Linked DNA regions of Homo sapiens: region 1 is reported to be linked to region 2. Evidence: microRNA targets listed by miRTarBase, many of them from high-throughput screens and not tested one by one. Region 2 holds a microRNA gene; the other region holds the end of a gene's coding sequence.

Region 1 (3,000 bases), not on the chromosome of region 2:
CCTCTATTTTTTTAATGTCCACCAACCTATCCTTTTTTATTTCAATGATTTTACAGTTAAAATCCAAACCAATTTATTTTACAGTTAATGTGCAAACTAGTTCGCCTCCTTCAGGTGGTAAGTTCTATCACTACAGCATTCTTAGAACTCCGGCTAACATGAGTTGATTTGCTGTGATCAATTCTCAGGGTCCTCCTGACTGCACAACAGTCAGACAGCTTGTTCCTCTTGCCAAGATTTTCTTAGATATTTTCACTCCCATGAATCTGCATGTTGCCAGGAGGTCTAATTTCCATGATAATGGTAACTGCTGGCCTCCACGCTAATGGTTGATTTTTGTCCTTTCCTCTTTGTCCCATGTAGGTGGGTACCTAGGCTGTGGCCATGGACACAAAGGCCACCCAGGTCATCCCCACTGGTCATGCTGTGGAAAATTTAATGAGAAATCTGAATGCACATGGACAGGTGGGCAGAGCGCACCGAGGAGTCTACTTAGGACTGTGGCTCTCTGATGGGTTTGTGCTCAGCCTTTTAAAGCTGCAGGCAGCACCACTTGAGATTTCCAGAGGACCCAGACCTTCGTTCATTCTAAAGAGACTGATAGAATTAAAAACAAAGTGCCTTATCTTGCACTGGAGTTCAAGTGCTCTTTTGTTAGTTATTCACTGATTGTACTTGTGGATGGTTGAGCACAAAAAACCACCTCTACATTTCTCTTAAAGGTAGGTTGGCAACGTTCTTTTTCTACCACAGGATACTCCTTTTCATTTTGTACAGTATGGAGGTATCTATTCCATTGGCACTGAAGGGTCTAGGTAGTTTAGTTCCTTTCTGATATAACCCTTTTTTTTTCTTTTTTTTTTTTTTTTAAAGACAGAGTCTCACTCTGTCACCCAGGCTGGAGTGCAGTGGCATGATCTCGGCTCACTGCAACCTCTGCCTCCCGGTTCAAATGATTCTCGTGCCTTGGTGTCCCGAGTAGCTGGGATTACAGGTTCCCCCCCACCTTCCCCCACACCCAGCTAATTTTTGTGTTTTTAGTAGAGACGGGGTTTCACCATGTTGGCCAGGCTGGTCTCAAACTCCTGACCTCGTGATCCACCTGCCTCGGCCTCCCAAAGTGCTGGGGTTACAAGCATGAGCCACCACACCTGGCCTATTATGACCTTTTTCATTTTTCTCTGAGCTACACATTATTTAGATATTTCCCCTAGAGATTAGAAACCTCCTTTCATCCTGTCCACTTTTTGTTAGCATACTTTCATTGGATTTACTGGTACATGTTTTGTGATCATGATAATGTGATCTTGTTTTGGTGGTGTCCCCCTACTCCGTCTCTATGCCATGACAGCCTTCTGCCCCAAAGCCTGGAAGATTACTCTTTGGTCAAGGGCATACAAATAGAAAGTTAATAAAGGGGAATGGTGTTGAAATAGAACCTCATACATTTATTACAGTTCTACTTATACAGAAAATCTAGACACCTTCATCCTTCTCACAGCTCTGTTTTTTAGTAGAGTAGTCTTTAGAGTAGTCTTCACTGTTATCTATATACCTAGAAAGTTAACTGGGAGCTTTGACTCTTACTGTGCCTTCACTCATAGTGTGCCTTCTTAGCTGCTGGAGAATTTGGGGAGAGGATGTACACAGCACTGGTGCCTCAGCCCTGCCAAGGTCTTCACTGTATATATTTTGTGTGTTCTTCTGAAACTCTTGATTTCTTATATGGCAATAAACTCAGCATGTATTAAATATAATTATTGAAATCTGCATTGTAAGATCCCTTAAGAAGTGGATGACTCACTTGGCGAATTGGGTCAGGTAAAGGAAGTGAATGATTAGATGATGACTGTCAGATCATTGTGGAATACATTTCCTCCTTGAGGCTGACAGACATGGGCTACATTATAGCCATAAATACTAAGATGTTCTCTGCGTTCTCACCCTTTTCTGGAAACATTCCCTTCAGCCTCTTTCTGTAACCCAAATCTGATCTTCCCAAAACACATTCCTGCCTGTCACCCTCTCAAATTATTAGCTATTTGCTCTTCCTCACTCCTTCTGTCACTCAGCCCAGAAGTATATGTCCTTTTAGCTTATTACTGCTGCTTTGAGATGAGTGGTTCTTTTTTTTTTTTTTTTTTTTTGAGACAGAGTCTTGCTCTGTTACGTAGGCTGGAGTGCAGTGGCACGATCTCAGCTCACTGCAACCTCCGCCTCCCAGGTTCAAGCAATTCTCCTGCCTCAGCCTCCCGAGAGTAAGCTGAGATTACAGGCATGTGCCATTACGCCCGGCAAATTTTTGTATTTTTAGCAGAGACGGGGTTTCACCAGGTTGGCCAGGCTGGTCTCGAACTCCTGACCTCATGATCCGCCCACCTTGGCCTGCCAAAGTTCTGTGACTACAGGTGTGAGCCACCATGACTGGCCGAGATGAGTGGTTCTTAACCAGGAGTGACTTTGCCCCTAAGAGGACATCTGGCAAAGTCTCAGAGACATTTTTAGTTGCCACTACTGGGGCAAGGTGCTACTAGCATCTTGTGGGTAAAGGTCAGAGATGCTGCTAGTCATTTTACAATGCTCAGGACAGCTTCCTGAAACAAAGAAGTATCCAATCCAAAATGTCAGTGGTTCCGCTGTTGAGAAACCCTGTTCTAGAGCATTAGCCCTACTTTTTTTCTAAAAATGGCCAGCCTTGGAGCTCATGCCTTTCAGCTATACAGCTTGCTATTCCTCCATGGTTCAGCCATCTACTGAGCCCCAAATTGTTCCCCTTCGTTCCTTGAAGATTATAGCATTGAGCTTGCTGTGACTCTGGTACAACTCCTTATCAATCTTGGGATAACTCATTGTCTACACAGACTTCTTAGTTCTGTGATCATTTCCCCAGTGTTATTTTTTCCCTACTTAGCCTTACATACCCTAGATCTTGATTCCAACTGCACCCTCTGCATAGTCTCAATTTCAGGCATCCTGCAACCACAACCTCCCACCTTTCCA
Region 2 (4,389 bases):
AGGTGTCAGGTGTTGGACCTTAGAGAAGACTGCCTGTTCGGGCCACAGAGGGGTCTAGGTTGGGGGTGGAGGGACCTCCTCTGTCAGCTCTTTGAGGCTTTTTTCTTTTCTTTGTTTTTCCTCTTTGGCCCCCAGAGGGCCCAGGTTAAACGCTCCAACAGCTAACATGCCCATCAGTGGCAGAAGCACGGAGAGGCCCCTCTGAGCACTCTCGAATGCTCCAGGCCTCCTCTTCATACTCCCTTCCTCACCAACCACCAGCGATGGGAGGCCCAGACTTGGTCTGACCATGGTTCCAAGTCAAGGAGTCAACCTGCAGGGCAGTGGCAGAGGGACCCTGGTATCTCATTCTGCCTCTCAGAGCCTCAGTTTCCCGCTTCTCAATAATTGGAATGAATGATCTTCCTTCCAGGCGAAGAGTCTAGGGAACCTATTTTTATAATATGACTGCCAACTAGGGACCCTGAGAGGCTGCCTCAAGCAGCCACTGAGATCAAAGACACCGGGAACAAACCAACTGAGTTCCAATCCTGGCTGCATTGTTTACTCATCGTGCAAGTGACTTAATCTCTCCGTGCCTTGGCTCTTTCTCCATGTTCTGCACATGTCCAAACAAAGGGAAAAACAATTTCCTCCCATGATGGGGAGCCATAGAGAAAGCTGGTGAATTGGGGGTCACCGCTGAGCCCCTCTTTCGGTCATGCCTGCTGTGGGCACTGCCCATAAACCCCATTGTCCTCTGGCTTTGCGTGTGCATGAGCAAACTGGACAGAGCCGGATGACACCAAGACGATGTGGAGACTGAGTGTTCCCTGAGATGGGAGCAGAGTCACCTGGTCTAGCCAAGGTCCCCCGGTCACAGCAGACCCACAGACACAAATACCTTAGACAGAAGCCCCCAGACACAGAACTGCACTGGAGAGCCACTGATGCCCACAGGGAGACAGGAGCTACCCCAGAGGGGTCCAGAGCCCATGGAAGCCCCAGCCCCAGCCAGGCCCCAGTCACGCCGTGTGCCAGCAGCAGGTCCTGTGGCCAGACAACCCCACATGCGGCCCCCACACTCAAAGCAGGGGGAGAAGCAGAAGATGCCAGGCAGCAGGTGGCCAGGGCAGCGTGGCCGTGGGAGGTGGGGTTCCCCGCTAGAGTCTGCGTAATAGACACGGAAAATCTTTACCGGCATACCCATCTTGCCCCTCTTGCCAGGAACGCCAGGCAGGCCCTGCAGGGGAGAGACAGGGGAGAGGTCAGGGCAGGATGCCAGCAGGGACAGCCAGGCTTGCCCCAAACCAGCCCAGAGCCACCCACGGCAGGAAGTCACAGAGGGCCTGGAATGTGTGCCACTTGCGTGGCGGCCCCAGTGACATGCACATCAGACGGATGGCAGGGTCGGGGTCTGTGGTGACCTAAGAGACAGAGAAATGCCAGTTCCTGTAATCAGCAGGTGCTTCATAAATGCTCAGGCTCCAGCTGTCCTAAGGTTCTCTATACCCAGCTTATGGAGGTTACAAGTGAGTTCCCATAGATACGGGCTCAGGTTGGGAGGGGGCGGGGAGGAAGATCCCGAGGCCACCACCCCAGGGGCTTCTAATGGACCTCCAGGCTGGGCCAGGGGTCTGTGAGAAGCTCCCACACCATCTTTTGGACTCCTCTGACTTAGATACTTGGTCTGGAAGGACAGGGTGTCTTAGGAAATCTTAGCACCCACTGCCCACCACCAAACCAGTCCCACCACCTTCCCCAGACAGCCGCTCCCCCTGGCTGCTGGAACTCCTGCCACCTGCTCTTGCTGTCCCCACCCCCAACCAACACATTTTACTCAAGTAAACCAACTGATCTGTCTAAAAGAGGAATCAGCAGATGGTTTCTGGAAAGGGGCAGATAGTGAATATCTTTGGCTCTGTGGGCCATACGGTCTCTGTCACACCTACTCAACTCTGCCATTGTAGTGAGAAAGCGGCATTGACAATATGTAACCAAATGAGCAAGGCTGAGTTCAATAAAACTGTTTGCAAAAACAGACAACTGGCTGGATTTGGCCCATGGGCCACCGTTTGCAGACCCCTGATCTATATTATAAAGTGGGCCCGGTGTTCATTGGTTGCAAGTCCTCAAGAGGCTCCGCATACCCTCAGAACAGAGTTCCTTTTCTAACCTTAGTCCTGGGCACCTAAGACATTGCCCCAGGGTCCTCTCCAGCCTCAACTCCCACCACTCTCACCCTCTCACGCAGCACTTTGGCAGTGTTGAGTGTTAAACTCGCCAAGTTACCGTAAATCCCTGACTTCGCACATGCTGTTCCCTATGCCTGGAATGCATCTGCCTTGACTTGTCCCCTTATCAGACTCCTACTCGACTCAAGTGCACCTCCTCCAGGAGGAATTCCTTGACTTCCCCAGGCTGGTGCCTGGCAGGTTCTGCTCTGTTTGGGCAGGGGTGGCTGTGGATGGTGAATAACCAAAGAAGCAAACTTACTCGTTCTCCATCAGACCCTGGCAGGCCGAAGAGCCCTGGGAGCCCAATGTAGCCCTAGGAAAGAGAAGAAAGGGGGTCAGAGCGGTCAAGCAGTGAGGTGTGGCTGGCCCAACCTGCCGCAGCCCACCCACCACTGCCATCCCACATCCCGGCTCCTCCTCTTCCTCCCTGGTGGCAGTGGCAGCTCCGGTGGCTCCTCGATGACATAGGCCTTGAGGCAAGTGTATATGCCCATGGACTGCATGGTGCTGGCTTCCACGATGTAGTCCAAAGGCACATACCCTCACGCCAGGGAAGGGCGCAGGCGCTCGCCGGCAGGAGGCCCGCCCCACGCCAGGGCTCCAGGACCTGCAGAAGGAAGCTCGCGGCTGGGTTAGATGCTAGCACGGCACCAAGCCCTGCCCACCCCCAGGGATGCTGGTAGGTGCCCGTGGCTCCTGCCATGGCTCCTCCTAGGCCTTCAAGGTCCTGGATGTAGGGCTTACATCCACCTCTGGCCGCCTGAGTGCTGGCATTAACTAACAGCGGCTGCGAACCCGGAGTGCCAACATTGTGCCAGGCACATGCATGCTACCACATTAGACTCTCACAAGGACCCCCCAGATTGTCACCACCCACACTGGACAGACAAAGAAACTGAGGCTCTGTAGATAAAGCAACACGACTAGTCAGTAGTGGAGCTGTGAATTCTCTTCGGGAATTCCTAATCAGTTCAAGGGTCACCCAGGGCCAGCTGACTCCACAGCTGGGGCTCGTCACCATTCTGGGGCTCTTCCCTAGGATGCATCTCATTTCCTCCCTCCCAGCCTTTCCTCACTCTGTCCCCTCCACCAGGCATGTCCTTCCCATCCCTCATGACTTCTGAGCCAAATCCTTCAAAGCCCAGCTCTCATAAGCGCTCTCCTTGGGCAAGCATCCCTGATACCCCAAGCCGGAAGCAATCTCTCCCCCCCATCCCCAGTGCCATTTTTGCACCTCGGTAGCATCCTTCTCCACTTTCTCCCTTGTATCTTCATTATTTGTGTTCATGCTTCACGTCCTCATTAGCCTGGGAACTTCTAAAGGGCAGTAACCTCGCCCGGGGCTTCTACCACTATCTGCGTGCCACTCTTGGTGGAATGATTTAATAATAACTCTAACAAAAGCTAATGTTTATTGAGCACGAATGATAGGCCAGGCCTGCTGCCAGTGCTTTGCATATATTAAAGCATTTATTCCATCCTTATCACACCCCGAGGAAGTATTATATTTTATTATTTTTTTATTTATATATATTTTTTGAGACGGAGTCTTGCTCTGTCATCCAGGCTGGAGTGCAGTGGTGCGATCGTGGCTTACTGCAACCTCTGCTTACCGGGTTCAAGCGATTCTCCTGCCTCAGTCTCCTGAATAGCTGATCACAGGTGATCACAGGTGTGCACCACCACGCCCAGCTAATTTTTGTAGTTACTTTAGTAGAGACGGGGTTTCGCTATGTTGACCAGGCTGGTCTCGAACTCCTGGCCTCAGGTGATCCACCCGCCTTGGCCTCCCAAAATGCTGGGATTACAGGCACGAGCCACCGCGCCCAGCCCTGAGGAAGTATTATTACTCAGCCCCCTGTAGAGGTAAGACCATTTAGGCCCAGAGGGGTGAAGCAACTTGCCTAGGACCAAACAGCTGAAATGTGGTAGAACTGGTATTCAAATTCAAGTCTTCTGACTCCTGGGCCTGGGCTCCTAACCACTCTGCATACTGCCTCTCCTCAAACAAGCAACCAATGGAGGCTCACAACCATCTCTCCTTCCCTGGAAGGCCAAGAAGCCACTGAGCCTCCTCGTTGGCATCCAGCATGATTAATATCCATAATCTGAAAGAGTGCCATTTACTGCCATTCCAAATAGTGCTTATCTCCCAGATTTACAGGTGAGAAAA

What was found. Region 2 holds the annotated microRNA hsa-miR-455-3p (GCAGUCCAUGGGCAUAUACAC, at 2,697-2,717, opposite strand). A microRNA usually pairs through its seed, bases 2 to 8, with sites in the 3' UTR of a target mRNA and lowers its output. Matches are read on the target gene's strand: a 7mer-m8 pairs with bases 2 to 8, a 7mer-A1 pairs with bases 2 to 7 and ends in A, and an 8mer does both.
Region 1: miRTarBase lists TRIM45 as a target of hsa-miR-455-3p. The part of its 3' UTR that is shown has no 7-base or 8-base seed match.

Annotation. Positions count from the first base shown.
Region 1 is chr1:117,109,817-117,112,816 of GRCh38, reverse strand. It overlaps TRIM45 (tripartite motif containing 45), which reads left to right. Exons shown (of 6, transcript NM_025188.4): 6 at 364-1,757. The coding sequence ends at 512. Among named protein-coding and RNA genes, the nearest start is that of TRIM45, 10 kb to the left of the region's middle.
Region 2 is chr9:114,207,815-114,212,203 of GRCh38, reverse strand. It overlaps MIR455 (microRNA 455), which reads right to left and starts at 2,770; the gene lies at 2,675-2,770. COL27A1 (collagen type XXVII alpha 1 chain) reads right to left here. Exons shown (of 61, transcript NM_032888.4): 11 at 2,476-2,529; 12 at 1,178-1,222.